Linked DNA regions of Homo sapiens: region 1 is linked to region 2. The links come from fine-mapping of genetic effects on gene expression. A gene starts in region 2. The other region holds a variant in brackets. All regions are shown on one strand. Distances are between the middles of the regions.

What was found. PIP is the estimated chance that this variant, and not a neighbour inherited with it, causes the effect.
Region 1: its variant is the best candidate, but not a certain one, in a credible set for the expression of VIP in lung (GTEx, PIP 0.50).

The regions. Positions count from the first base shown.
Region 1 is chr6:152,707,137-152,723,728 of GRCh38, reverse strand. It overlaps MYCT1 (MYC target 1), which reads right to left. Exons shown (of 2, transcript NM_025107.3): 2 at 1-1,987. The coding sequence ends at 1,476. Among named protein-coding and RNA genes, the nearest start is that of MYCT1, 18 kb to the right of the region's middle. RefSeq lists an enhancer at 1,341-2,540. The variant T/G (reference allele first, on the strand shown) is at 7,962.
Region 2 is chr6:152,742,897-152,759,488 of GRCh38, reverse strand. VIP (vasoactive intestinal peptide) reads right to left here and starts at 8,692. Exons shown (of 7, transcript NM_003381.4): 1 at 8,530-8,692; 2 at 7,205-7,321; 3 at 5,201-5,323; 4 at 4,116-4,220; 5 at 3,224-3,355; 6 at 2,305-2,393; 7 at 1-579. The coding sequence starts at 7,311. The coding sequence ends at 2,348. It overlaps LINC02840 (long intergenic non-protein coding RNA 2840), which reads left to right. Exons shown (of 5, transcript NR_183508.1): 5 at 699-4,613. It also overlaps a transcript of MYCT1 not described here.

The DNA of each region.
Region 1 (16,592 bases), 36 kb after region 2:
CTGGTGGCCACATTTAGGGATGCATTCTTCCTTACAAGGGCAGCCACCTGTGGAAGTGGATTCTTAAATAACTGTGTGCACCAAAGACCATCTGGCATGGCTTAATCACTGTACAGACTCTGCAGAGAAGTTGGAATTGAGATTCGTAGAGAAGCAAACCAGGAATGATGCCTGATGATTAAGAGTCAATCCAGGAAGGAGAATTCTTCATGGGCAACATCTATTTCAATAACAAACTCTCTCCCCAGTGACTCATACTTATTTGTCTGCAAAGTTACAAAAGAAGATCCCCAGAGAAAGTGCTTTCCAAGTTGCTAGATGTAAGTTTAAGAAAGAAAATTTTTCCCTTAAGAAAAACGTGAGCTTGGTTTTAAACTTGAGGCTTGTTTTTAGGTCAAATGAATTGGATTTTTTCCTGTTGCTTTTCTAACAATGTAACGACAACGGTGAAGAAAAGGTAAATCATCATGTTAGTAAATCCAAGGATTTTGCCTCCAGGAAGTAGATAACTATTCTTGGGAAAAACACATAAAGAGTTTGTCCAGAAAAAATTAGTGTCAAAAATGAAACATCCAATGACACCAAAAGAGTTCAGTTTCCTGTGCTTGAGTCCCACACTTCTTATAATGATCAAATCAAGGAACTTTAGAATGTCCTATGTTCTGTCATTTTGTGCCCACATATTCCATTAAAAATCCAAGATTGGCCAGGCTAATTCCAGCACTTTGGGAGGCCGAGGCAGGAGGATCATCTGAGTTTAGGAGTTTGAGACCAGCCTTGGTAACATAGTGACACTTCATCTCTACTAAAATTAAAAAAAAATTCAACCCGGTGTGGTAGTGCACCCCTGTAGTCCCAGCTACTTGGGGCACTAAGATGGGAGGATTACTTGAGCCTGGGAGATAGAGGCTGCAGTGAGTCCTGATCATGCTACTGCAACTCCCGCCTGGGCGACGGATCAAGACCCTGTCTCAAAAGAAAAAAAAAGAAAAATCTAAGATTGTAAAATGTCAATATGATTCACTTGTCATTCTAAAGAAAGTAAAATCCAAATCCCTTAGAAGATTTTTCTTTAAAGTGACACAGTGATTTTTTTTCTCTTTTTAGTCACATTGGAAGTAAATGAGGATTGTAATCCACAAATATCTGAAGTTTTAATTTTAATTAAAATATATATAATGCATCTTAGCTGATTCTTACATTAGAATCACTATTTTTAATAAGCCTCACATTGAATACAAAATACATAAATATAAAACGCTTGGGGGAAAATATTACATTTTTTGAAACAAAAGGGAAAACGTGTTTGAAGAAAATGTGTTTTACATTGTAATGTCCAACTTGCACAACCATGTTTCAACTTGGAACTCATGAGTTATTTGGGCCATGCCCTCAAAATTCTGTTTAGCCTATTTTTGATTTCCTTTCAATAAAAGACAAGACAAGAAAGAAACAAAAACCAAAAGCCACCCTACTCAGGAATCTGGGAATGCCTTGATGATGGACTCATAGGCAGGTGGGGGCGGTGTTGAAAGGCCCACTCGAAGACTGTTACTGGACCAGTAGTCAGGACGGCTCAGACTGTGGGAAGTGCTGATGGTGGGAGAGATATTGGAAGAAGGGAGAGTCACCAGCTGACTCTCAGTTTCCACAGGAAGTGGTGGACATTGCAGAAAGGGATGGAAAGTAGAAGCTCTGAAACTTGATTTTCTTGGAAAGGAATTTGCTTGTTCCAGGGAAGCTTGTCGCTGGAAGGTGAGACTGGCCAGGCTGAGGTTGCTTCGACGTTCACAGCCACTGTGGCGGTAAAATCCAGTTCTGTTGAGGCCGTGGGTGTAAGAAGACCTAGATCTCCTGCTTGAACTCCACTGTGAGATGGGAGCACTGGCTCTTCTTCTTCGAGACAGACAAATGAACACAGCCCAAATAAATCCTCCAAGTACCAGCCCGATTGCCATGGATACAGTGAAGGACATGATAAGGTCCTCTGAAACAAAGAAAACAAATTGCTAAATCAATTTTTAAATAGGTTTTCAACTAAAAACAAGGGTCAGCATATATACTGTAATTCAAAGAATACATGATTAATTTAAACATACTTTGAATTAGGGAAATAGAAGACAGTGTTAGGTGGATATGAACAAATGGAAGCTGATAATGCTTCCATTTATTCAAGCAGAAAGATACAAAATAACACTTTCAGCTGCGGCATTCCAGGTCACTTAACCTGTTTTATCATCTTTAAGAAATAAAAGATAAAAGTAGTCTTACTTGATGTCATTAATTTATGGCATTTAGTTCATCCATTTTTTACAGAGCTGCAAATGTAGCCCAAAGTTGATTTCCTTTTGAGTTATAGTAGTAACTAATGTGCCAGATTGATAAAGAATTTTGTCATCACTTTGATGTTGCCTTTTCCTCTGTCTGCTTTCATCAATCACATTGATTTCTGCCACCTGCAGTCTTCATGATGCCTCACTTCCTTTGCTCTTTCTGAGACAGGAAGTGCTGGGATAGAACCATCTGGCCAGCTGACTGATTTATGTCATATTTCCTGAACTCCCAGACAGTCACCTATATCTCTGACTCTTTGATGACTTGACCTGTGCAGACTACTGGGCTCTTTCTTGTTTCCCAGGTTCCAGCTCATGCTTCTGTTACGCCCTTGTGATGATGAAATTCCTGTCACCTGAACCTCCATAGAGCCTCGGCTACGTACCAGTATTCTGTAATTTGTAGAACTTGTAATTTGTTCAGATTTCCCTTTCTGGGGAGAAAAATGCCTTTTCCTAATGGAAATGCTACCTTACTGCCTCTTGTAAACTAAATACATATTCTTGAATGAAACTAGGTAACTGAGTCTCCCCTCACCACACCACTTTGCAAAGAAAAATTCTGGGTATTAGAAGACTCCTCCAGCCTGTTGGTCCCCCACATTTCCCCTCCATGATCAAACCCCTTGTCCCCAACGTTTCCCCTCCATGATCTAACCCACAAGTCATGCTCGTTTCTCACTGTACCAAAGCCTGTCATTCTCTCTAAAACTCTGAGCTTTTCCACATATTTGTCCTTTTATCTGAATTCAATTTTTTAAGCTTCTGTCTGGAAAACTCATTCTTCAAGCTCTACCTTCAAGTATCACATCTTCAGTAAAGACTCCTACATTTCCTAGACAAAAATAAGTTACTGCTAAGTAGAAAGGTAAGCTATCATATCTAATTGCTTATGTAGGTAGTCTGTATTGAGAGAGCCATAGCCTGAAAATTAGCTGATGGGTGTTGTGAGACTGGGGAAGAGGAGGAGAAAATAGCCACAAACGTTTTGCTGTTCCTCCCATCAAGAGATAGAGTCTATTTCCCCACCCCTTGAATCTGGGCAGGCTTCATGACTTGCTTTGACGGTAGGATGCAATGGAATTGAAGCTATACAAGTTCAAGCCTAAGCTACAAGAGGCTCAGCATCCACCCTTCCTTCTCTTGGGACCCCTGCCATTGTCAGCATATAAATAAGGCCAGACTAGCCTGCCAGATGATGAGAGACACATGGCCCAGGAACCCCTACTGCCCTAGCCAAGAGCCTGCTAACCTGGACATATGAATGGTGTCATCCTAGATAATTCAGATGCTAGTCAACTCACCAAATGACTGTGACACATGAGCAAAGACCAGCAGAAAATCCACCAAGCTGATTTCATCTCAAATTACCAATCCACAGGATTGTGAGCTAAGCAAATTATTATTAGTTTAAGCTACTATGTTTGGGGGTGGATTGTTACATGGCAAAAGCTCTCTGATAAAGGGTTCCAAACTCAGCTCTGTTCCTAATATGTTTTGTGATTTTTAGGGAATTTGTTTAGACCCACTGATTTCATTATACATATATATAAAGGAGTTAGATTTTATGATTGCCAAGGTTCTTTTTAGCATATTGTAATCTATAATATGTAGACTACCTAGAATGCAGAAATAACAAAACAAACTAATGTTAATAACTACAAAGGAATAATCACTGCTGTCTAATTTTAGGATATAGTTCAGTGTCCTTCCACCATATATTGTCACATTTATCTCCTGTGGAAAAGCTACATTTATTGTGTCCTACTTTCACAATTATCTGTACAAATAATTATATCAACATTCTCTAAAGCAATGGCTTTATGCAAAGTTCCCAGGCACATTTTTTAGTGTATTATATCACTTAATCCTCAAACATCCCAATAAAGGAAATGCTAGCGTTATTCCCATTTAATAGTTGTGGCTACTGAGAGGTAAGTAACAAGCCCATAGTCCCACACCTGGTGAAGGTCAAGTAAGGATCTGAGACCAAAGCATCTTAATTCATAGTTAATTGCTTATTTATTTTCTAAGTGTAAGGTAAGAAAATATTAATCTAAAATGAAAATGAGCAATATAAATTGCATAAAAATTGGTCGATTCAATACCAGAGTATCTTGCAGCCTGTTATGAACAGAAATACTTGAGAGAATGGTGGTTAAATAATATTGTGTGTTCTACAGATATATTTCCATGAATCAATAGCCTTTAGTGGAGACTTTTAAATATCAACAAGCTCAGCTATGGACTCATAGAAATGGAGTTTCAGCTAAAACAAGCTTTTGAAAATGTGTTGGACATAAATTCCTCATTTTATAGATATTGAAACAGAAGCTAAGGTTCATGTGGTAGAATTAACACTTGATTTATTGTAATAATTGATTGGCAAGTATCGGTGGTTAGGGAACTATTAGTTACACTAGTGTATGATACAAATGAGAAGACAAATACTCAAATTTACAAAGTATATGTCCTTCCTATGTGTAAATGTACCTAACCACTACTAGAGTCTGACTGAAGACTCTAAATATCTCAGTATATAAGCAGGCATAATAGATAAAATGTAAAAAGAGATGTTTCCTTGATTTCAGCAAAATGGAGTTAAAACCAGAATCTGAAAGGAGAAAATATATTCAGTTACTCAATGAAAGTATTTAAAGATTACAAGAGTCCTTGTACATGGTCTCTGTGTACGCCCTTTGAGCCTCTCATCTTCTGACAAATCAGATATTCCCAATATAAATGTTATTTATAGTGGAATAATAGCAAACTTTAGATTCGAGAAAAAAATAGAAACTATTTAAATACACAATCAATGAAAAATAATTTCTTGTCTATTATTGTGATTGAGGCCAGGTGCAGTGGCTCATGCCTATAATCCCAGCACTTTGCGAGGCCGAGGTGAGAGGGTCGCTTGAGCCCAGACCAGCCTGGGCAACATAATGGGACCTGTCTCTACAAAAAGTAAAAATAAATTAATTAAATAAAATACAGCAATTGAGTATATTAGCAAAAACAACAAAAATACATGGAGTGAGAAATATATTTATATTTCAGATGACTGTTTTATTTCCAAAATACATTATTGTTCTGATGTAAGAAAACTAGGATAATATCCAAACTCTAATGGGCAAGTTATTATAGAATATATTGGACCATCACAATTTTCTTAAATGACAAGTTTCAGTTTGGGAACTAAAAAGATTATTTTTGTGGCACTAAAACTATAACAATATTTCCATGAGAGGAATTTGACAACAAACCTATTTAAAATGATCATTCTCTGTGGCTTGGTAATACTTTGATTTGATATGGTAAACCTATTGTCTATGCCCAAAATTTGGGGAAATGACTTAAAATGTCATCAAATATTGGGTTATATAGATATCCAAAAAGGATTAAATAATGAATTTAAAATGTACGTGAGAATCATAATAATAATATATACACACAATAATAGGCTATTTAAATTTTGAATGAATATAAAGTAGGATAAGATGGGGGTGCAACGGAAATTATACAAATTACAAAAAAATTGCTTTTGATATGGATTTGTTTAATTTTTGCTCAGTAGAGTACACGCATCATGAAAACGACTTCTTAATCCATAAAGTCAGTAAAATACACACTTTAGAAATTGCATTAGTCTGTTTTCATGCTGCTGATAAAGACATACCTGAGACTGGGCAATTTACAAAAGAAAGAGGTTTAATTGGACTTACATTTCCACATGGCTGGGGAGGCCTCACAATCCTGGTGGAAGACAAGCAGGAGCAAGCCACATCTTGCATGGATGGCAGCAGACGAAGAGAGCTTGTGCAGGAAAACTCCCCCTCATAATAACCATCAGATCTCGTGAGACTTACTCAGTATCACAAGAACAGCACAGGAAATTCCTGCCCCCATGATTCAATTACCTTCCACCGGGTCCCTCCCACAACATGTGGGAATTCAAAATGAGATTTGGGTGGGGACACAGCCAAACCATATCAGAAATCATTGCACTAATTCTTATACCTTGCAGAATATTAAAACACCTACAAATAATACTGCTGACAGAAGAATTTCTAAGACTTCCTGAGGTATATGGTAAAATACTTATCTATCTTCTTAAGCTCCCTTAAGTCCAAACAGCAAAGGCAAATGTAGAAATGCAGAAAGGCAATAAGAAAGAGATGCTGAGTCAAATAACAGGGGTGGTTTTCATACACATTTTTTTTTCATTTAATTATAGTTGATGATTTTTCTGACCTGCCCAAACTAGAATTTAGAAACTGTGTGATGAAAGCAGCATCTACTGGTCATACAGCTTTAAATTTTCATATATGTAATTCCATTCTGGCAGACTTTTGACAATGTATTTTGGGAGCCTTTTTTAAAACCTAGTGTAGAAGAAAATGTAACTGAAAAAAAAGACATTGGCAAAGATATTACTTTTTAAAAAATGATATGCCTTCTTACTTCTCAACAATCTAAGGAGAAGAAAAATGAGCCATAATCTTTCTTCTTAATAATTGCAATATAATGCAACTTATGAGACCAAATGATTACTTTTAAAAATGTTAACTTTCCTTTTGAAAGCAGAAGGAAAAAACTCTAACATTGGTCAGCTATGCCATATAAATTAAATATATGTCATCCTAATTTGTAATACGTACCTACAAAACTAGCAAGTAGATGGCACATAACAAGCCCTCAACGAACACTGGCTCTTACTGCTAATAGTTGTGTAATTTCCTCAAGTCATTTGACCCTTCTTGGCCTGATAATAACAGCCACGTTCGTGTCTTCCAATTTTAATATTGTAATATTGAATATGATTTTTAGTAAATATAATCAATACCTCAAATTCCATCCACTGGTATTAAAATTTAGTAGAGGTCACCATCTAGTGGCCTTGAGTTGAAGCATTCCAACTCTGAAAGTGATTTATCAGTGATGGCAGAATGTAACATTGTTTAAAACATTCAAAAACCCTTTGCAGTTGTTAAGAATCATAAGTTCAATGTTCACCAAAGCAGGCCATGAAGTCCTTGGTATCATAGAGTGTATAGGAGAATGGTTCAGGCAATAGAACTACTTTTGACGAAAAGGGCTTTTAGGGAGAATAATATTTAGGGCATAGAAATTTGATTGATTATAATAATTTAAACAGCCGAGGAGTATTTTCCATTATATCTCATGTGCCAGAACATCTTATTGGGTCTGTTTTCACAAACAAAAAGAAATCCAGAATTCAACTTCTCACTACCCACTCTGCGACTTCACTGATCCAAGTGGCCACATTCCCACATCTGTGACCTGGAATATGGTCTTCCTGCTTCTGTCCTTGCCATATCCCTCACACCCCAACAATGTGCTCAATGCAGTAGTCAGAGAGAACATTATAAAATGTAAGTCAAATCATATCAATCTTCTGTTCTAAATCCTCCACTTCTCCCAGAGTAAAAACAAATGCCTAAGAATATCCTAAAAGTCCCTACTTGATAGGCTCCCAATTATCTGAGCCCATCTCCTCTACTCTTCCTTTGGGTCACTGAGCTCTGTCTGCACTTCCCCCCTCACCATTCCTTAAGTACATCAGATGGGCTGGCTCCTGACTTAGGGCCCATCCCTGGTTGTAATCTA[T/G]TCCTAAAATTATTTCCTCAGCTATCTGTATGGTTAATTTCAGGTCTTTTGCTTATATGTAAGTTTCTCATTGAGGTCTACCCTGGCTGCTCCACCTAAAATGACACCCTGTCCCACCTCTGAAGCCTAAATGGAATTCTTGTTTTTCTTTTTTCCTTCCTGGTTAATGGAAACTACATTCATTAATTTATACTCTAAGAAAATGTGAATGAGACGCATAACCATTATGAGCTGAAAATGTCATTATGTTTGAAAGATAGGAGGATAACATATATCTGGAAGGTTTAAAAAAGCTTCATGGAAAAAATAAATTGTAGATGCCTTTTTGTGAATGGTAGTGGTCAAATAAACAAAAGGCTTGGAGATTTGAAAGTAGTTTTGATCAAAATTATAAAGCACAAGCCATATTCTGAATATAATTAGTTAACAGTATTGCTAGAGGTGAGGGCAAATTCAAAAGTATCAAGGTAGCACACCCCTTTCTGTATATGATAGACTAACATGTATCAAACCAATGAGAGCAAGCGTACAATGGAGAATAAAATATTTTCTTAAATTTGTTTGAAGCCATCAGAGACTTATCAAAACTATTAAATCAAAGGAGCAAATTCCAGGAGAAAAGAAAATCTTTCATCACAATAATCTGTAAAAAGAAACAAAAATATCTGAGTAGAATGCTGTGCACTATAAGTAAGCTTAGAAAACATAAGTTGGTGTTCAGGGGCTGCCAAGGAAGTTGGACCCTAGGAAACATCCCAGAATCTGGAATTAGGCCCCCTAGGATCTACTCCCTAAGCTTAATGGTAAACAGGAGAAAGACCAGACCTCACAAAGATAAAAATATAGATCAATCCCAAGTTGGACTGAGGTGATCTTCCCCTAACTGCCAGAAGGAAAGTTTTATACATATATATGAAATAGAAAGTTATATACTTAAATAAATTTATATATACCTAATAATGTTATATATATATGTGTTATAAATAATAAATTACAAGTCATCCTAAGAGGCAAGACAAAGTAAACAAAAACTAAAAGAACAAATAGAAAATGGAAAAATATCTGTAAGTTATGAAAATATTTGAATTATCAGACAAAAATATTAAAATAACTTGATTAATGTGTTTAAAAAATTAACAAGTTAAAAATTTTCAGCAGAGATTGAGGATCTATAAAGAAAATTAAATAAAATACCTAATGAAAATTATAAAATATTTTAACTGAATTCTGATAAAATTGTGAAATATCGAAACATGTGAGATGTGCCTAAAGCCACATTCATAAGAACATTTATAGCTTTATAGGTATACATTTTAAAATAAGAAAGCCTACAAAAACAATTATTTCAGTTTCCATATTAAGAAGCTAGGAAAAGATCACTAGCTGAAACATAAGTAAAGTAGCATACAGTAAATAAGAGAAAGCAGAACTTAATGAAACAGGGGCAAAAAAAAAAAAAAAAGAAAAAGAAAAAATAGAGGAAATTATCAAAGCCAGATATGAAAAAAATCTAATAAAAATGAATAAAATACTAATTGGAACGACAAGGATGGAAAGAGGAGAGAAAGAGAAAGAGGGAAAAAGAGTGGGCAGGAGCAAGAGAAAGAGACAGAGAGAAAGAGAAAATCACCAATATCAAGAGTAAGAAATGTGACATTAGAACAGATACAGGCAATAAAAACATCAAGCTAGGATTCCAAATCAGCTTTTATGAACTGACCCTTTCAAGTAATAATGACTATGAACACTGAAAACAATATAAAAAAAAATTCTACCTAAAGGCCTTAAGAATGACCAAATGCTTGTAGCTACTGGAGAGGAGTTGAGACCTGGAAGAAAAGAACAGCAAGTACTAGTCAAGCTCCAGTTTTCAAACCTTTTAACCTGAGGGAAGCTTCCAGTCTGGGACAGGTAAAGCTACAGTCGAAAACCTGCACTGTTTCTGATCTTGAGAAACAAAGGACAGAGATTGTGGAAACAAGAGCTGCTGAGAATGTGAGAGGGAAATCCTGGAGAAGAGAAAGCCAGAGAGGAGAATCCCCAAATTTTATTTATAAACATTTCACATATCTTTGGTTGACTCCTGAATCACACATACGTGGGATGTATTCCAAACAGCACTAGAGAAAAAAAAATAAACTAAAGTGAGATTTAAGCTGCTGCCCAAGGGACAGGCTTTATAGGTTTCTGTAGTTGTAGTTCCACAGAGTTATTTGCCTGTGAAAATAAACTAGGGGGAAAACATACATCATAACACTCTTCAGGGTAATATAGCAGAATCCATTCAAAATGTTCAAGATACAATATGAAATTACTGGGCACATGAAGAAACAGGAAAATGTGATCCATTCTTAAGAGAAAAGACAGTCAACAAAAACAAACTTTAAGATGATCCAGACATAATTAGCAGACAAAAATTTTAAAGCAACTCATATGTCCATATTCAATGATTTCAAGTAAAACACTCACAATGAATAAAATGATAGGAAATTTCAGCAAAGAAATAGAAACTATAAGAAATAACAAAATGGATATTCTAAAACTAAAAAAATGAGAACTAAAAAATTTATACCATGAGCTTAACAGTGAAATTAAAATGAGAGAGAAAAGAATCGGCCAACTTAAAGGTGTATTAATAGAACTTATCCAATTTGAAAAATGGAGAAAAATATTGGGGGGAAAAAGCAAGCCTCTAGGCCTTGTGGAACTATATAAAAATATTTAACAAATGTGCAATTATAATCCCCCAAACAGAGGAAAGGGTGGATGGAGCTAAAAACATTTTGAATAAATGAGGCTGAAATTTTTCAAAATTAGTGAAACAAATTAATCTACAAATCAAGAGTCTCAGTAACATCAAGCAGAATATATATAAAGAACTATGCACGTCATAGTCAAACAGCTGAAGATCAAAGGTTAACAAAAAAAACTTGAACACAGCCAAATTACAAATAATAATAACATTACATTCATAAAAGACAATTATTTAAATACTCACTTTTAATAAGACACGGTGATATTTTAAAGTGATTTTAAAAAAGCTGTCAACTCAGAATTTTATATCCAGCAAAAGTATCCCTTAAGTATAGTAGTGAAATAAATACTCTTTCAGGGGGAGGAGCCAAGATGGCCGAATAGGAACAGCTCCGGTCTACAGCTCCCAGGGTGAGCGACGCAGAAGACGGGTGATTTCTGCATTTCCATCTGAGGTACCGGGTTCATCTCACTAGGGAGTGCCAGACAGTGGGCGCAGGCCAGTGTGTGTGCGCACCGTGCGCGAGCCGAAGCAGGGCGAGGCATTGCCTCACCTGGGAAGCGCAAGGGGTCAGGGAGTTCCCAGGAATTGAACAAGGATACCCAGGAATTGAACTCAGCTCTGCACCAAGCAGACCTAATAGACATCTACAGAACTCTCCACCCCAAATCAACAGAATATACATTTTTTTCAGCACCACACCACACCTATTCCAAAATTGACCACATAGTTGGAAGTAAAGCTCTCCTCAGCAAATGTAAAAGAACAGAAATTATAACAAACTATCTCTCAGACCACAGTGCAATCAAACTAGAACTCAGGATTAAGAATCTCACTCAAAGCCGCTCAACTACATGGAAACTGAACAACCTGCTCCTGAATGACTACTGGGTACATAACGAAATGAAGGCAGAAATAAAGATGTTCTTTGAAACCAACGAGAACAAAGACACCACATACCAGAATCTCTGGGACGCATTCAAAGCAGTGTGTAGAGGGAAATTTATAGCACTAAATGCCTACAAGAGAAAGCAGGAAAGATCCAAAATTGACACCCTAACATCACAATTAAAAGAACTAGAAAAGCAAGAGCAAACACATTCAAAAGCTAGCAGAAGGCAAGAAATAACTAAAATCAGAGCAGAACTGAAGGAAATAGAGACACAAAAAACCCTTCAAAAAATCAATGAATCCAGGAGCTGGTTTTTTGAAAGGATCAACAAAATTGATAGACCGCTAGCAAGACTAATAAAGAAAAAAAGAGAGAAGAATCAAATAGACACAATAAAAAATGATAAAGGGGATATCACCACCGATCCCACAGAAATACAAACTACCATCAGAGAATACTACAAACACCTCTACGCAAATAAACTAGAAAATCTAGAAGAAATGGATACATTCCTCGACACATACACTCTCCCAAGACTAAACCAGGAAGAAGTTGAATCTCTGAATAGACCAATAACAGGCTCTGAAATTGTGGCAATAATCAATAGTTTACCAACCAAAAAGAGTCCAGGACCAGATGGATTCACAGCCGAATTCTACCAGAGGTACAAGGAGGAACTGGTACCATTCCTTCTGAAACTATTCCAATCAATAGAAAAAGAGGGAATCCTCCCTAACTCATTTTATGAGGCCAGCATCATTCTGATACCAAAGCCAGGCAGAGACACAACCAAAAAAGAGAATTTTAGACCAATATCCTTGATGAACATTGATGCAAAAATCCTCAATAAAATACTGGCAAACCGAATCCAGCAGCACATCAAAAAGCTTATCCACCATGATCAAGTGGGCTTCATCCCTGGGATGCAAGGCTGGTTCAATATACGCAAATCAATAAATGTAATCCAGCATATAAACAGAGCCAAAGACAAAAACCACATGATTATCTCAATAGATGCAGAAAAAGCCTTTGACAAAATTCAACAACCCTTCATGCTAAAAACTCTCAATAAATTAGGTATTGATGGGACGTATTTCAAAATAATAAGAGCTATCTATGACAAACCCACAGCCAATATCATACTGAATGGGCAAAAACTGGAAGCATTCCCTTTGAAAACTGGCACAAGACAGGGATGCCCTCTCTCACCACTCCTATTCAACATAGTGTTGGAAGTTCTGGCCAGGGCAATCAGGCAGGAGAAGGAAATAAAGGGTATTCAATTAGGAAAAGAGGAAGTCAAATTGTCCCTGTTTGCAGACGACATGATTGTTTATCTAGAAAACCCCATCGTCTCAGCCCAAAATCTCCTTAAGCTGATAAGCAACTTCAGCAAAGTCTCAGGATACAAAATCAATGTACAAAAATCACAAGCATTCTTATACACCAACAACAGACAAACAGAGAGCCAAATCACGGGTGAACTCCCATTCACAATTGCTTCAAAGAGAATAAAATACCTAGGAATCCAACTTACAAGGGATGTGAAGGACCTCTTCAAGGAGAACTACAAACCACTGCTCAAGGAAATAAAAGAGGAGACAAACAAATGGAAGAACATTCCATGCTCATGGGTAGGAAGAATCAATATCGTGAAAATGGCCATACTGCCCAAGGTAATTTACAGATTCAATGCCATCCCCATCAAGCTACCAATGACTTTCTTCACAGAATTGGAAAAAACTACTTTAAAGTTCATATGGAACCAAAAAAGAGCCCGCATTGCCAAGTCAATCCTAAGCCAAAAGAACAAAGCTGGAGGCATCACACTACCTGACTTCAAACTATACTACAAGGTTACAGTAACCAAAACAGCATGGTACTGGTACCAAAACAGAGATATAGATCAATGGAACAGAACAGAGCCCTCAGAAATAATGCCGCATATCTACAACTATCTGATCTTTGACAAACCTGAGAAAAACAAGCAATGGGGAAAGGATTCCCTATTTAATAAATGGTGCTGGGAAAACTGGCTAGCCATATGTAGAAAGCTGAAACTGGATCCCTTCCTTACACCTTATACAAAAATCAATTCAAGATGGATTAAAGATTTAAACGTTAAACCTAAAACCATAAAAACCCTAGAAGAAAACCTAGGCATTACCATTCAGGACATAGGCGTGGGCAAGGACTTCATGTCCAAAACACCAAAAGCAATGGCAACAAAAGACAAAATTGACAAATGGGATCTAATTAAACTAAAGAGCTTCTGCACAGCAAAAGAAACTACCATCAGAGTGAACAGGCAACCTACAACATGGGAGAAAATTTTCGCAACCTACTCATCTGACAAAGTGCTAATATCCAGAATCTACAATGAACTCAAACAAATTTACAAGAAAAAAACAAACAACCCCATCAAAAAGTGGGCGAAGGACATGAACAGACACTTCTCAAAAGAAGACATTTATGCAGCCAAAAAACACATGAAGAAATGCTCATCATCACTGGCCATCAGAGAAATGCAAATCAAAACCACTATGAGATATCATCTCACACCAGTTAGAATGGCAATCATTAAAAAGTCAGGAAACAACAGGTGCTGGAGAGGATGCGGAGAAATAGGAACACTTTTACACTGTTGGTGGGACTGTAAACTAGTTCAACCATTGTGGAAGTCAGTGTGGCGATTCCTCAGGGATCTAGAACTAGAAATACCATTTGACCCAGCCATCCCGTTACTGGGTATATACCCAAATGAGTATAAATCATGCTGCTATAAAGACACATGCACACGTATGTTTATTGCGGCACTATTCACAATAGCAAAGACTTGGAACCAACCCAAATGTCCAACAATGGTAGACTGGATTAAGAAAATGTGGCACATATACACCATGGAATACTATGCAGCCATAAAAAATGATGAGTTCATATCCTTTGTAGGGACATGGATGAAATTGGAAACCATCATTCTCAGTAAACTATCGCAAGAACAAAAAACCAAACACCGCATATTCTCACTCATAGGTGGGAATTGAACAATGAGATCACATGGACACAGGAAGGGGAATATCACACTCTGGGGACTGTGGTGGGGTCGGGGGAGGGGGGAGGGATAGCATTGGGAGATATACCTAATGCTAGATGACACATTAGTGGGTGCAGCGCACCAGCATGGCACATGTATACATATGTAACTAACCTGCACAATGTGCACATGTACCCTAAAACTTAGAGTATAATAAAAAAAAAAATAAAAAAATAAATACTCTTTCAGGTGAAACAGAATTCAAATTAATCACCAGCACACCTACACTAAAACATGTGCTGAAGAAAATCCTTAGTCTGGGGATAATGAAAACTGGGATCTTTAAGAAGAAATTGAGACCATCAGAAATAGTATCAGAGTAAATATAGAAGACTCTTTTCCATCAATTTCTTTAAAATATATTTTTCTAGCTAGAGCAAAAATTAAAATATTTTCATATGAAATGTATAGTTTATATAGATTTAATATGTAATAATTATAATACAAAGAATTGGGACAGGATATAAATAAATCTATTAGCTTGATTGATTGATTTAGTTTTTAAGAGATTTTAGAGACAGGGACTTACTATATCATCCAGGCTGGTCTCAAAGTTTTGGGCTCAAATGACCCTCCCACCTCAGTCTCCAAGTAACTGAGACTACAGGCACACACCAATGCACTCAGCTATTAGCTTGTTTTTTATATTGAAAATCTTATGTATTCTAAAATATAACTACAAATTATATTAAGCAAGACTGCAGAATGTAAGACTTATATATAAAAATACGTTTATATACTAGCAGCAAACAACTGGAAAGTATAATTACACCATTACAATAGCATCATTAAGCATAACATACCTAGGCATCTTTTTTTACAAAATGTATGCAAGATGTCTGCACCACAAATTTTGAAATACTACTGAAATAAATTAAAGGTCTAAAAAGTGGAGAGATATACTATATTTGTGAATTACAAGCCTCAATATTATTAAGATGCCAACTGCCCTTAAATTTATTTATATAAATAAATTTATATAACTAAATCAACTAAAAGTCCAATAAACAGGCTGTTTGTATTATTTTACAAATGACCCTAAGTTGTATATGATGACAATACAAAGGAACAATAAAAGCAAAGCTGGAAGCATCACACCACTTGATTTTAAAATATACTACAAAGCTATAATAGTCAAAACAGCAAGGTACTGGCATTTACATAGACATTTAGATTAATGAAACATAATAGGGAGGAAGCCCAGTAATAAATCCATGCATTTGTGACAATTGGTATTTGACAACAGTATCAAAAATGCACAATGGGGAAATTATTGCCTCTTCAATAAGAGGTAATGGGAAAACTGCATATCCACATGCAGAAGAATAAAACTGGACCCTTATCTCATACTATATAGAAAAATCAAGTCAAACTGGATTAAAGATACAAACCTAAGACCAGAAACCCAAAAAACTACTAGAGGACAACATAGGGAAAAAGCTTGATATTGATCTGGGCAATTATATTTTTGCATATGACAGCACAGGAAAAAAGCAAAAATAGACAAGTAGAATTGTGTCAAACTACAAAGCTTCTGCACAGTAAAGGAAATAATCAACAGAGAGAAGAGACGCCTACAGAATGAGAGAAAATATTTGCAAACCGTATATCTGATGAGAAGTTAACATCTAAAGTATATAAGAAGCTCACACAACACAAAAGCAAGAAAACAAATAATCTGTTTACAAAATGAGCAAAGGACCTGAATAGACATCTCTCAAAAGAAGCCCCACAAATGACCAATAGGTAGATGAAAAAATGCTCAACATAACTACTCATCAGGGAAACGCAAATCAAAGCCACAATGGAATATCATCTCACACATGCCAAAATGCCTATTATCAAAAAGACAAAAGATAATGAGTGCTGGTGAGGATGTGGAGAAAAGGA
Region 2 (16,592 bases):
TTGGTGATTAGCAATCCAAATTTGAGATTTTTTAAAACACCATTAAAAATAAAGGTTGCCTATAAAATATGGAAACACATAATATTTTCTGAAAATCTTTTTGGAAGAATGTCTTTTTATCTTCATTGTTACTATCTTAGACATTTTGAGGTTTATTTAACACAGCATTCCATCTGCTTAACATTCAAATTTAGACACACTGATTATCTGTTCTACTCTCCTGAATAGTTAAGTACACTCTATAAATAAACACATCAATTTTGCTCTATTACTACTCTTCCAAAAACGTCTCATATAATTGGAATTAACCTAGCATTTACTTATCATTAAATATATTTTTTTGTTAGAAAGGATATACAGCATATGAAATTGCAGGCTTTTTATGAGTTAAAGACAAAATTTAGAACTCTCAAATACTATTTACAATGTAAACTTCACAGTTATTACATTAGCTAGAATACATCACAACATTCACAACACAATATTTTTATTTGGTTTGGATATTGAAGTTGTTTTCTTGAATTACTTATGTAGAACTCAAAATTTAATTATGTTGCGTATCATTTTCCTTCAAGAATTCTGAAAAAGAAAAAATTGTTGCTTTAGGCATAAAATATATTTTATTTCTAGCATCTTAGTTTCATTCACTGATTTACTTATCTGATAAACACTTATTTCTCTTTGTCCCTTGTTAACAGCCTGTGGCAGGGGATCATGTCCTGGGACATACCAAGAGAGCAGCTTCTAGAGGACTGATTATCAGAGAGGAACTGGAATGTGAAAAGACGTCTAACTAACCATTATTAATGATTCACTTGTAATTTTCACTAATGGATGACCCACATGATTTCCTCTTCAAAGAATTTGTCCAAAGCCACCCATTTAAAAAAGAAAAGAATGGAGGATGGAATCTCATAAGTGATCTTACCATTTACAAAGCACAGTGTGATTAATCAATTCTCCTTTATATTTTAGTGCCTACCGTGTTTCTTAATTTGATGGAGAAGCCTTCTTATAAACACTCTTAGAAAAGCTATATGTAATTAACTTTCTTCTTTGAGCAAAGGGACTTGTTTCTCTGAGATGTCTATAAAAGATAAAGAGTTGATGTGGGCCACACTCCTGCCTCTGCTTTCTCTTAGAGGTCTAAGGGTAATTAGTGGACAAAAGCAGTCAATTAAGCAGGTATCTTCCCAGACACCATGTCCACTCTTGATGACTGTTGAAAACCTTAGATAACCCCATCAGGAACTGAGGTAAGGCCATGAATTGCCTTTAGTTTGAGCATGGGTGAATTTAATCTCCTTAACCTAGTTAGGGATTGGAATCTGGCTCACCTTCAGGTTTTATGAATAAAGTTTTATTGGAACACAGTCACTCCTATTCGTTTTACATCTAACTGTGGCTGCTTTTGTGCTACCATAGCAGAGTTAAGTCACTCTAACAGAAAATAGATGGCTCACAAAGCCAAACATATTTTACTCCATAGCCCTTTAAAATCTGCTAACCTTTGATATGGTGACAGCATGAAATTTCTTTAAGCACTTGCCCAGTATTATAGATTTTTTATGAGCGAATGTGAATATTAATGTAATGTAACTCAGGAAAGAAATATGTCTTGAACCCACATTTATATAAAATCAATTTTGATAGCAAGCTTATTACTTCACAAAGAAAAAAAGTCTATCCATGTTTTTTCTGCTCAAAAAAAATGTTGGCAGAGAATGCTATTAGAGTCATATAGGTAAAACAAACTTACAGGTAAAACAAGCTAAATTTAACTTTTGCTCTATGAAGTTTGCCATGTTTCAAGGAATATAGTTAGACCCAGAATGCCTTGATATTTTCATAGTAATGGGCCATGCTCTAATTTGGTGCTATTTCCCTATACTTAATTGAGGAGCTAACAGTCAATTGTGAGACTAAACCTTCAATTAATAAAAGCAGCATGGGTCGATCCTCAAAAGGAAAGCCCATTTTTCTTGTCAGTGTGAGTCAGCCTCCTCTGTTTTTTTATCTTGATACAAAGGTAGAAATAACCCCAAGTAAGCCAGGAACACTATTCAGATCTCAAAACGTTTGCTTATTGTGAGTGCTCTCTTTTACAAGATCAAAAAAATTTCATGAATCATTCTAAGCTGTTTACTGGGTTGGGGTCCACTGTTGTAGAAGTGTCTGTCTTGGATGAGGTCTCATGATGAGAAACTATTTAACCCTAAGATGTTTCTTACTAAGTGACTCTTAGCTACTTATATAATCAGAGACAGCCATAAGAATACAGAAGGAATGCACGAATATACCCACCACTGGGAAGTTGTCATCAGCTTTGCTCCAAAGGTCTTTTTCATCATTTTTCTAACTCTTCTGGAAAGTCGGGAGATTCTCCCTCACTGCTGCAGACCAGAAAAACATTGTACATATTAAGGCTCTCAGATGAGAAAGGGTCTAAAGAAACTATTATGACATAATGAATGTGCTGTTCTCTGTGCTCTGAAAGTGTATGGGGAGGCTAAACAATTATCTTTGAGGTTTGTTAGTACCTATGAATTATTCATCAATCTTAGAGTTTCTAAAATTATTCTCACAGAATTATCATCTAGTGGGCAAAGAGGTCATCTTGTCTGATCACACCCAAACAGAATTATCCTTAATACTCATCACTTAAACAAAAACAATTGGAATAAAAAGACAGAACACTACACTGTTTATGTATTGTGTCCAATATTTACACACCATAGAGAGATATAGATTTTACAGAATCTAAATATACAAAATACCTAATGGTTTAATTTGATTAAATAACAGTAGTGAATATGCACACGAAGTGAGTTCCATGTGTTACCAAATTGCAATTGACTATGCTTTACATGTTTTAAAAATCATCACTTTTGATGAAACTTGCTCTTAGATTCAGACTAGATGTCTGTATAGTCATCATTTTTAACACTGGCAGCATAGTAAAGTCAACTGGGGAACTCTTAAAAGAAATGTATGTCTAGGGCCACACCACCGAAGACACCGATTTCCTGGCAATTGGTTTGGGAGAAGGCCCAGACATCTGTATTTTTAAAGTTCTGCGGGGTAGTCTAATGTCAGCCAAGGTTGAAAATCACTGCTTCACGTAGTATAGCTAGATAAGTGAGATAGAGAGGTCTCCATGTGCAGCTTCTATTTTGAAAGTCAGTCATGATTCCTCATTTTAGCAAGTTCTCTTTTTCTTTACCTCCTCTTTCCATTCAGAATTGAGTTCAAATATTTCTTTACAGCCATTTGTTTTCTAAGGCGGGTATAGTTGTCAGTGAAGACTGCATCTGAGTGACGTTTGACTGGTACAGGGTCTTCTGAGATGTTACTGCTAAGGAACATGAGGAAAAGGAAATCAAAGAGTTTTCACAAGAAATGATAAATACACACATGTTCCAGGTTTCTTGGAGCCACATAAAAAGCAATTCCCACCCAACTAATTTTCTATCATAAAAAGACTAAAAGAAAAATACAACTAAACCTAAGGATGAAGGAAAGCAAGGAATCATCTGCCATATTTTGGCATGGCCTGGGACTGTTTTATGACACATTCTGTACAGCTGAGCAAATAATTCATCCAAAAATAAAAATTTGGGAATAGCTGAAGTTGTGCTCTGCCATTGGGAGAAATTTTTTTTTTTTTTAAAAAAAACATAATTACTTCTTTAGAAGCTATGCTACCCTGAGCAACGTCATCTAAATATTTGACTGTTGGCCATTTGGAATTCTCCATTTAATTTGAGCAGGAAGTAAAAAGAATATTCTGTTTGACCTTAAAATTTACCTCAGTCTGTACTATCTCTTTTTGATTGTTTTACTGAGTCTTGTTCAATTTGATTGCAGATTGCTAAATGATTGCTACTTGAGAAAAATGTGTGTCTGGAGTCAATGAATATGATATTATGAAAAAGTCTTAGTCCATGGGCTTGATAGATGTTATTGAAGAATACAAGTTATTTCATTTAACTAAATTAAACATTATCAACGAGTTTTCAATTTCAAACAAAGTAAATAACTTGTTAAGAGTGAAAATACAATATTCAGATTGAATAATGATAACATATTTTATAAAAATAATAAATTCTCTTTACCTAACACGTTTTCCCATAAGAGACTCAAGGTACTTTTTGGCAGAAAGTTGACCCAAGAGTTTACTGAAGTCACTGGTGAAAACTCCATCAGCATGCCTGGCATTTCTAAAACAAGGAAGAAAAAAATAGCTATTATTTTGTAAATGGCTTTCTAGAATATTATTATGGCTTATTAAATAACAAAAAAATTATGGGCTTATTATGAAAGCTTCTCATTAAAACTAAAGTTCAAAAGGAGATTTCTTAACACCCTAACAAAAGAGATCTTCTAGTCACTTATATCAAGATATACCCTATATTTCTAGCCCAAGACACTGAAAAATTAAAGAAACAGGCATTTCTAGGAGCACATTTCAATATTCCTCCATGGTTGAATCTTTATAACTATTTCTTTCTAAGAAATATTGGTGTAAAAATATGATCTATTTAAATTAGCTGCTATTTGTACATGGTGCTTTGTGTCTGCCCCACTGAATAAAGACATTCACAATGGGAAAATATTCTGATTTTGGAAAGTTCATAAACCCCAGTACACCTTTTTTTTTCTTTTTCCAAAATATTTGGAAACAAAATCTCTTAAGATAGAGAAGGCATTAAGGCCTATCATCCCACCTTTTCTCTTTCAAATGAAGCACCTTTTATACTTTGTCTGTACCAAGTACTATAGAGCTACTTGGTCTGTACTTGAAATGATGCTCTAGACAAACAGCTCTATGAATGAACAGCTCTATCAGGTATCTTTTCTTTATATAGAGACAAAACTCCTTGGCAACTCTTCCATCATTGGAATGCTAAATGCTGTACTTTTATCAGAATTGGTACAATCTGTGATGTTGGAATTATGTGCAACAGAATGGAAGTGAATGGTGTGTTCATCCTGGCTTGTTACAACCTTTCAGTATGAAAATTATGTACAGCTGTAAGATCTGCAGTAAATCAGGATGAATGAAGCCATGACACATAGAAACCTCTAGTGTTTTGCTATCGGAATAGCTTCATGGTGAGATAAAATAAGCACGTTTATAGTTCTTAAACACATTTTCTAAAATAAAACTCATTGGATAGTTTTATAAAAATAAACTCACCTGGATACATCATAATAGGGTGTGTCATTTTCAGCTAATGCATTTTGCAACATGTCAATGTCTTCTTTTAATGAAACTTGATCAGGTTCATTTGCTCCCTCAAAGGGTATTCTGTCACCCAACCTGATGGGGAAAGTTACACGAGAATAATACATTCTTTTTTCAGAAGACAGTGTGTATGGTTCCGCAACCATTTAAAATAAGATACTTAGACTCTTGGGAAGTATTACCCAGTCATAATATGAGAATAGCATAATTTGACTTAATGGCTCATATAGTTAATGAGAGTATAAATAGGAAATTCCTATTATCCTATAAAGTAGATGCCATATGACTTTTATAAGCTGAATATACAAAACACAAGAGCTACTTAATTCAATCTTATCAGAGCATTAAGCAAACTATACTTCTTTGGTGTAATTTACTATGCCAAGAATATCTTCACTTTGCAAAGTCAAATTTCGTATGTAGAAATATTTTATGCAAAATAGAAACTTGCAAAAAACTAATATTGAATGAGAACTGATAACAATTTATGGATTTGGTGATGTTCAGTATTACCTGTTCCAAACATCTCTGAAGAACAGAGTATTAACTGCTTCTCTCTCTCTCGACCCCCAAGCTTTGCTTCAAATATTTACTTTGGCATTATATATTTCTCTGTATTGACAGAGTTCAAAGAATGTCTCCATAGATGGATAGCTCATCTATGAAGATGAATTTGAATTCAATAAGTTTTATGGGGCCTTCTTTTTTCTAATCTTATGTATTAACACAACTTTAATAAGGGATGTACAATGTTACACTGAAAGACTAAGAATAGTCAAATGCATATATGGAATATGACTATATTTATGGATGCATGCATATTTCAATCACCGGCAACTCTTATAATTTTGTGTGTGCAGATTTTCACTGTTAGGGCAAACATCCAAGGAGCGTGTCAGCTCCTGGACACTTGTGTATCTTTCAGTGATTTGGGAGTTGGGAGTCACTAGCAACTAGTCCTCTGTGGGTCTGAAGCTTAGCAATCAACACAAATGTCCACATTCTTGTGATTGTTCATCTGCTGTGGTAGAACTATTCAGATAGAACCATTTTGTTTAGTTATCAAAGCAACGCAGGAGCTGTATTTAAACAGATTTCACAGAGAACACTAATAGCTAAGAGGTTATTCTCTCTGTTGAGCATAAGTCTACCTTAAGCAAAAAATCAAGAATGACCTAATAAGCAAAGAAGGAAACCAACCCAATTATTATTTTTCCTTTGGAGATACAGTGGTGCCCGTAAACTGAAAGGAAAATTCAAGCTAATATAGTTTTCATTTATTGTTTACTTCTTTAGCATACATTAATAAAGTTTTAAATAAGAGTTGTGTTATACTTTATGGATTTGGAATATATAATATAACATATAGAACAATAAAACTAAGGATTTATGGTCCAAACAAAGTATATCAAAATTTTCCTATTGGGGGAGTGTATCTCAATAGATCAATTACCCCATATTTAATATTGGCAAATTGACTCTGCCTAGATAGATTTCTGTGCAACATGATTTTATACATGTTTCACTAATCAACTACTAGTCTTATGATTATTTACTGATTAATCTTGAAAATAAACTCAAATGTGGTTGGCAACTAAACAGCTTTTTTCCACCAGAAATTGAACTGACTTGAGATAACAATGGATAAAAGCTTATTATTTATCTAAAGATGGTTTTGAATAAAAAGAAAGTGAAAGCCTCCTTTCACCATGTTTGGGAATGTGATCCACTCAGCCCATAAAACTAATAACTGACAGTGTCTCTCATGCCCTGAAAGTGAATTCCAGGACTCAGAATGACCTGATGTTGACAAACACCTCTCACTCAACACATCAAGGAAAAATTTAAATACATAATACATAATTTATACTATTTAGTTGTCCAACAAAATGTATAGGAAATTCCCATTTAGATGAGGAAGGAATGTTCAGATGTTTGAATTGAAAGGGAACTTACCTGAGAGCAGAAGGTGCCCTGTAAAGAGGCCATGCCGAAGTCTGTGAGAAGAGCACACTGAGAAGAGTCAGGAGCACAAGGAGCTGGGCCTTATTTCTGGTGTCCATTTCTGTGCCTCTAAAGAGAGAGAATCACCTCAGTTCTTCCAGCCAAAGATGTCACCAGCAAGGTAATTCTGATTGTCTAGCAGTAATTTTCAATGGCTCTTGCAGAGTTTGTAAAGAGTAATTTTCATCTTGTAGAAAGAGTTAAATTGCAAGATGATACATTCAAAAATCAGTATTTCTCTCAGTGACAGGTGCTTGAATAAAAATTAGAATCCTTTTCACCTGCTGTCTGGGCACATGGTTGGCCCCAGTATCTATTGAATGCCATACTTCTATAGTGCTGGAAATAACCCTGGGGACAATCTTTTCATAACAGGGATGTACCACTCAAGCTTAGTGTATTTTTTGACGAAGGAAACAGCTTCAAGACATTGATTTTCTTCTGCTTTAAAATTTCAGTATCTGACTAATATAAGACTAGAGTATCATCTATTTAATAATTATTCTGCTCGTGTGTGTGCAAATGTATAAATATAATGTGTATATATACATATAATTTTAAAAAAGATTTTGTATATACATTACTTTTTCCTCTTTCAATTGTAGATATTACGGAAACTTATTTCCTTACACCTGGATTTGAACTTCTTAACTCAGTAGTGAATATTAATACTCAAAATATTACTGAATCATATGTTGTCATTGAAATAAATTTTTCCATAAGAGGAAAATATATATTAAAAGCAAAGCTTGCATTTCTTGCATTTAATCAACTTACACATTTCATTTCTAGTTTCTAGATTAAAAGCCTAGGAGTAAGGTCTGTTTCTCTTGCTGCCTATAAAAATTATGGAATTTAAACTTAAGGAAAAAATAAATGCATCTTAGATTCACTTAACCAACATACGAAATAGGAAAAAAAAAGCACTTTAAAAATAAGTTGAAAATTTCAAAAGCAAATGTTCCCACTGAAATTTTCAGTCAAAAATCTACATACAAGTAAACTTTACTTGAATGAATTATTTGTAAAAATCAGTATTCAGTAAAAGAGCAAGCAGGGTAAAGCATCTTACAAACAAAAGAATTCAGAAAATCTATCCATATGAGAGAAATTGAAGTATTTCTATCCTTACCAGGTGACTTGAGAAACTTGTTTTTTGCTGTTGCAAAAGCAAAGCACTATCAAATTCTTTTCAAGAGAGAAAAATTCATTATTTTGTGAGAAAAGTTCCAGAGGCAGGAGGGAAAAAGAAGAGGAAAGGTAAAGTTTTCACTTACCTCGCCCAGTCGTGCTCCCCCGGAGCTGACTGTTCTGGTTTGTTTTGGAGCTGTCTTAGGTGCTGAAGTCCTGGGAGTAAGAGAAAGGCTCCACCAGTTCTCTGCCCTTAGCAATGGCTAAGGGTTGGCTGTTACTGCCTGCTGGTGCTTCTCACTCTACCCTGACCAGCATTTCAAAGCCCATCATTTTATAGGGCTTATACTTAGGACTGAGCAATCACAAAGTGCTCTGAAAGACGTCACAGTATGACGGCCATGGGATGAATAGGGCTTGAAGTTCTTACTTAATTGTCATTATGCCTAATTTATATAAGTTTATAGTGAGCAACTTCAAAATGTAAGATAAGAGGAAATTTACTTTTCTTTAAACAAACAAAGTAGCAAGCTCAATGTGAAATGTTTTAACCTTTAATTAATTGTAAAATAAGAAAATGATTGTAGTGTTATAGCCAGGGCCATTGGGATTCCTTCAGAAAATAAAGACTTCATGTGTAGAAACAAATGCATAAAGCAACAAACACTTATGTTCATTACGCTTATAAAAGTATAATTATACTTTATTACAAAGTATCAATTCTCTTAATATTTTTAATTTTTATGCTATTCATATAGTTCCAGATTTAATCTTTCTTGAAATCTATCCTAACTTTAAAAGCTCTAGAGATAATTTTCACCTTCCTATTATTACATTTCGTCTTTGTTGAAACTAATTCCAAGATAAGTGTTTCAGAAAGTCTCTAAGATAGTAAGATATGCACGCTGTTGTACAAAGCAGTACAAGTAGTGCTATTTCATATTTGTATAAAATGGCACAATTCCCAATGCACTTTTACATACACTGTGTCAAATGATCCAAAAAATAAATTGTTGTCAGGCTATATACCTCAAGGAATTTAATTGTCTTTTCTTTTTAAAGATTTTCCTCATCACTTTTATAAGTCTTTGCATAATGTAGAATTAGTTTTCTACCCTCATCCCCAACACACACACATACTCAAACCAGTTTTGAACATTTCTGATTCAATCACTTGACAGGTGGCTTCAAATAGTTGAAAAGCATTTATATAGTACTTTGATAAATACTTCACTTCTATTTGTGGATTTGTAACTAAAGGTAGTCTAGCACACATTCAATCAGAGTTTAAGGTAAAAATGCAGCCACATGAAAAATTTCCTAAACAACAGAGGAAAATGCCATTTTTCCTTTTATTTTAAAGGCTTTCTGCCATGTGTATTATTTTTACATTTTGTTTCTAAGTTTCATAAGACAGAATGGCTTTACAGTCCTCTTTCTTCTACTTTAAGATTGTAGTATCTATTTCCTTCGTTCAAAGTCAGACTGATCCAGTAAAAGAATATCCTGCTATGCTTAATCATATTTTCTAATCCAGTTACCAGAAAAATTAAATGAATTAAGTTTCAAAATGTCTGGAAATTTGTTTCCCAGTTGACAGCTCTGACTTAAGCCAGAGTTCCTGTGGCTTAATTCCAGGAAATCTTTTTTACCTGATTATTACAAACTAGAGGTTGAAACAGTTCTCATATGGAATTTTTTTATCCTTAGCTCTTCATCACCCAATTCTTAGTGAACCAATTTTATTTAAGAGCAGAAACAGCAAAGCAACTTAATTGAGGGTCACAGACAAATGACTGCTGAATGATAAGAAGAAAAATTTTAAACATAAAAGATGTAAAGCTGATCATTATTTGGCCTAGGCAAGCACTTAGCATTTACAAAGAGTAACTATAGTAGCTTTTCCCAATACAAAAGACAATTGCTTCTATTATAATAATAATAAGATAAAATAAAAAGAAATAATTCAATTTTATTACCTCTGAATAAAAGTAAACTCAACCAAACAACTGCATTTTCTCTTATGAATTTAAACTAGAAAGCAAAACAATTTGAAAATGGAATCATAGCACCATCTGCAGGTTCAAAGTTTTAATTCACAGACTTTATAGAATTGTGTTTATTTCTTCTTTTCTTTCAAGGAAATGAATTGTAAACCAGAGGTCCTGTAGCCAGCTTAACTTTTGGATGCTTCCAGAAAAAATAAACATAAGAAAAAGTACTGCAGTCAAATTTATCCTGAATTCTCGGTTACCATAAAACTTAGTAAATAAGTACAAAGATACAAACTTGAATTTACTGTTTAAATGTGTCTTTTCCGTACTTTGACATATTCTTCCATAATTTGCCTACATTTCTGGCAAAGTTTATTTTTGCCTTAGGCCTTCTCAGTAAAGTGATGTTTGTAATAAGGGGAACTATAATTCATTCACATGGATAGAAAAATCTTCAAGATCCTTCTTTTACAAATAAGTAAACTGATCTCCAGAAAGTTTCAGTAATTTTTGCCACTCAGGTGGTTAATAACAAATACGAGATTGGAAGATAGACCGTCTGATTTTGAGTCAGCATTCTTTCAATTTAGAATTGGTAATATTCTGTAATTGTTGCTATCACCTTTTTGATGCTAGCAGGTCAGATATGGAAATTGACAGCTCATAAAAATATTGGCATCTCCTCTCCCCTTTTTTCACCAACAGAACCAAGAGCAGGGAAATAAAACTGGCATTCTAAATTCAAACATACTGGATGCAAGGAAATTAGATGGAAGGGATTTTCAAGCTCAGGATATTAGCAGAAATCCAAATTTGCCTTTTTTTCTTTAGTGCAAAATACTAATAGAGGGTCCATATTCTTATTATGGATTAAATGCCTAAGCTTGTGCTCTTCTGCCTCTTTTTATGGTGGTTTTACCTGCCTAATTCACCCTATTTCACCTCCAGTCCTGAGACTTAGCCAATGTCTGCGTTGGTAATCCTGAGTGGGTAAGTCTAGATCAGAGGTCTGGAAACTACAGGCTGTGAGCTAAATAGACTGACCCCTCTGGATTTTGTTTGTTTGTTTCTTCATTCATTTGTTTTTGTTTGTTTACATCTCTCAAGCTAAGAATGATGTTTATATTTTTAAATGGTTAAAAAAATTAAATGAACTTTTTGTGACACATGACAATTATACGTTATTATTTTATTTTATTTTGAGACGGAGTCTCATGCACTCTATCATCCAGGCTGGAGTACAGTGGTGCAATCTTGGTGCACTGCAACCTCTGCTTCCCAGATTCAAGCGATTCTCGTGCCTCAGCCCCCAGAGTAGCTGGGACCACTGGTGCCCACCATGTTGGTCGGGCTTTGGTCTGGAACTCCTGAGCTCAAGTGATCCGCCTGCCTCGGACTCCCAAAGTGCTGTGATTACAGGTGTGAGCCACCTCCCTGGCCAAAACTTATATATAATTTAAACGTCAGTGTCCATAAATAAAGTTTTGTTGGAACATAAAAGCATTTCATCATATATGTATTCTCTATAGCTGCTTTTGTGCTACAACGGCAAAGTTGGATAGTTGCAACAAACTGCACAGCTCTCAAAGGTTAAAATAATTACTATTTGATCTTTCACAAAAAAAGTTTTTCAATCCCCTAGATCCTCCTGTTTGGCAGATATTTAAGATGATATGTTTGCTTTAATAGTCTTAAATCCAATATCTTTCAATAACTTGTATTAGGAAATATATATTTGCGTATATATATTTTATATACCTAATGTATAATGTATTATGTACTGTATATGTTATATATACATAAATACATATATTCTATACAATATATTATACATGTATATATGTATAACATACAGAATATATACATACATTTAATATACATGTATACTTTTACTAAAAGTGTACATTTGCATAAGATGTATATACATACGTATATTTGTATAGCATATTAAAAGTTTATATATTTAAAGCATCTATATTAGAGTATATATAAACACTTTCAATTCTTTTAAATTAGAAAATTTGAACTTATTTTCAGGATTTTGTATTCTTGTCATATTAGTGATTTGATGAAAATAATATTACAATAAAGGTAAATTTTCCCTTTAAAGTTACCTATTAGAATTCATTTCGGAATCTAAAAATATATCAGCAAATATAAAGCAAAACAAATAATGATCTAAATGATATGATCGAGGACAACTTCTCCCTTAACTCCAAAACCTCGTTATCTGTCCCACTTACTGATGCTGAGTTTAGAGAAAATTATTCCTTTGTCTCAGAATTTTTTTGCTTCAAATCAAATTACATGTAGAAAGAACAATGCAAGTGCTGCAAGTCATTCGAACTTTATTAGGGTTGTATGTATCAGACGATTTCCTGAAAATAGATTTCAAAAAGAAGGGTATAGAGAAATCACAGGAACACACAATACTAAGATGTGGAAGTTGAAAAATAGAGTATTAAAGATTTTAAAACCAATTTTACCTACTTCACAATGTCATCTCTTATGTATATGTTCCCCCACCACATAGAGTAGTCCTCCCTTATCTGCAGTTTCTCTTTCCATGATTTCAGTTACCTGTGGTCAACAGCAGTCTGAAAACATTAATGGAAAATTCCAGAAATAAACCATTTATTTGCTTTAAACTGTGTGCCATTCCAAATAGCATGATGAAATCTTCTGCCATCCTGCCCAGTCCAGCCTGGGATGTGAATCATCCCTTTGTCCAGCATATCTGTGCTGTCTATGCTACCTCCCAGGTAGTCACTTAGCCAATTTGTTGACAGATGGAAAATACATGGTTTATGTAGGGTTAGGTGCTGTCAGTGGTTTCAGGCGTCTGCCGGGGTGTTGGGAGATGACTGTACACATTCCATGCAACCAGCCTTCAACTCAATCACCCTCTGTGTTTACTATATGGATCAAATGAAAAACAACCATGTCTAATTTCTGGCTTTTAACCTTAAGAAAGCTGCAGTCTAGATGTTAGAATGAAGATTTGGCAAGAATATTTTCTGAGTGAGTTCTCATGGCCCCTCTACCACTACATCTATTCTCCACAGGCCAGGGAAGAGCCTCTGAGATGGGGAAGCTGGTGTGAGTTTATGGTAGAGTGGAAGGGATGGATGACAGAACCCTGTGTTATCAAGTGTAGGGGCTGAACAATAGAGGCTAACTTGGCTTCATTTCACATCTGGTTGACATAAGACAAAGCAAATCATGGAGAAACACTCTGCATAATGGTACGGGAGACAAACCTGGATGATAGTTGCACACCCTGCTTAGGAAAACCCAAAATACCATCCAAGGAACAAAGAGTGGAAAGGGCCTAGCAACGGACAGGTTTTAAACAACCTACCAAGAGCCAGCGTGGGTGTCCACACCCAGGGACCAGATGTCACTGCATATTTCAGTCGATGACAGCCAGCCCTAGACCATCTCCAAAGTGCCCAGAGGAAGCCTCCCAGATTTCACATTGCTCTGTCAGAAGCTTAGATGCTACTCTGAGGGAAAAGAGGAGACAAATCCTCTTTTCAAATCTGAAAGACAACATTTGAAATGACAGAAAATCTGAAATGATAGAATTTTAAATCTGAAAAGTATTGCCTTTACCTAGAAATGATCAAGTTAAACTTTTTTTCCCCTAGACTTGGAGTCTGTCTCTGTAACCCAGGCTGGATGGCAGTGGCACAACTGTAGCTCAAGGCAGCCTCCAACTCCTGAGCTCAAGTGATCCTCCTGCTTCAGCCTCCCATGCCGCCAAGATTACAGGTGTGAGCCACTGCACCTGGCAGAGGTAAACATTTTTAAAAACAAATTTTTGTGTTCATTTTACTCTGTGGCCTGTGAAAATATATACTCACCATTACTTTACAATGGCCTTGAATTGTGTATAGTCATGGTTTGCCTGGGAAGAGCCTGCCAGGGACCCTATATCCTACTTAGTGTTAAAACCAGTTTCAAAGAGGCCCTGGGACCGAAGCTTGGTAACTTTGAGATTTGTCCTAGAATGGAGCACGGGGGCAGGATGGAGGCCTGCCCTGACCCTGGAGGCCACATGTCTCCCTCCCTCTCTTTGTTCTTCAGTTGTTCCAGCTGGTCTCCAACTTTGCCACCTGGTTCCTCACCTTAGGCTTCTTCAACCCATTCCTTGGCCCTAAAGCTAAACCTGTTTCTTTCAGTTTGCCTCAGCCCTAGAGGACCTCCCAGGAGCCCTGAGTTTCGGCTTACTCTTGGGAGAGATCTGACGCCACAGGCTCTCCCCCCAGCTCCCGCCTCTGCTGGGAACCCTCTCTGCTCTTCTTCACTGTTTCTATTTCCTTGAAGGCTGACCTTTATGGACTACATCGTCCACACCCTGGTCCTCTGGCTGCTGGCTGGGCTCAGCAAAAGAGACGTGCTGGTTGGAAATGAAAGGACCAAAGAGGAGGGAAAGAGAGTTCTGGGTATTTATTCCCCTAGGCCATGGCTTGGAAGAGACTACATTCCTCCCGCAAGATTCAGTTTCTGCAGGGTGGCCTCTCTCCTGCAGCCCTAGAGGGGCCAACGGCTCCCTGCTGAGGCTCATTCATGGATTACTCGCTACCTCACTACTTCTACCTCTTTATTAAACTCTCCTCAATTCTACCTCTTTATTAAACTCTCCTCAATTCACCTTTGGAAAGAGCCTTGAGTCCTTCCTGGACCCTTCCTAGTGTACTCCCATTCCCACACCCAATATTTAATTTTAGGATTGGATAGCTTCAGAAGGCCTGCATGTTTTAAAATTTTTGGTATTTTTCATTTGAGTTGGAAGAACTCTTAAAATAATCAATGTGGGAACTTGGAGGAAGGGCACTCTAGCCCCGAGCCGGTCTGTCCAATTGGTGAACAATTGATTTCTGAAGACTGCTGCTGAAACACAAATACATTAGAAGTTCATTCAGGCCCTTGATGCTCCTCGAGTCCCCTCCAGGAAAAGAAGCTGGATCCATTGCTGACACAATTGCAGAGAAAAGGTCAATGTGCTGCCAGAAGCCAGACACCAAATCCTCATGGGGTCTTTGTGAGGAGGTGTAGAGTAGCCTTGGGAAGGAGACTTGAGGCAAACTGGGCCCTGCGTCTCCAGGGCTGCTGGCGCCTGGCCCTCAGGAAAGAAACTCTCCCTGTCAAGGAAGCAGGAGCTGCAGCTATTTGATAAGCTTTTAAAATCACCATTCTTCTTAATCATATATTCTAATATCCTGTATCTGTAGTTACTTCCCTGTACTTCCAAGTCTGGAACACTAATGTTCTCATTTCTGACTCATAAAACCATCATTTTCAGCTAGAAAGAATTTAAGGTAATTTAGTCCTGTCACTTTGTTTTGAGAAATTTTAGCAACTTCATAACTGAAAAAAGGCAAGTGACTTCCAATGAGTAGCGGAGCTGAGATCTGGACCTTTCACCTTTCTCTTCAAGTGGGTTGTGAGGCCAGCAAATTCAAAACCCACAGAATAGAGCATGGAGAGTGGGGAGTGGGGCATGGTTGCCTTGCTGCTGTGACCCTCCGGATTTACCGGGACGGTTGAGCAATGTGTAGTGATGATGTTAACAGGCAGTTCAATCCAGTGATTTACATTTGCTTGCAAATAGTTCTTACCCCAAATGACAACCAAAAGAAATGTTGTTGAGATGCATCCTAACGGGGAGTCGCTTCCTAGGTCCACACTCCTTTCTGTGGCTGCAGTGCCTTTAGGGTGTCTCAAAGAAATACCACGCAAGGGCCGGGCGCAGTGGCTCATGCCTATAATCCCAGCACTTTGAGAGGCTGAGGCAGGTGGATTGCTTGAGGCCAGGAGTTCAAAACCAGCCTGACCAACATGGCATAACCCTATCTCTACTATAAATACAAAAATCAGCCGGGCGTGGTGGTGCATGCCTGTGTTCCCAGCTACATGGGAGGCTGAGGCAGGAGAATTAAGCAGAATTGCTTAAACCTAGGAGGCAGAGGTTGCAGTGAGCTGAGATCATGTGACTGCACTCCAGCCTGGGTGACAGAGAGAGATTCTGTCAAAACAACAACAACAACAACAACTACAAAATAATCGAAATGCCATGGAGGGAAAGAGAGAAAGCCGCTTTTTCTGTCAAAACAGTGCTGAGCCTAAGTATTAGATAGAGAAGGCACAGGGTGCTTCTTTCTTCTCTACATTCACAAGGACTATTCTTGGCATTTTTCTTACTAAGGAAA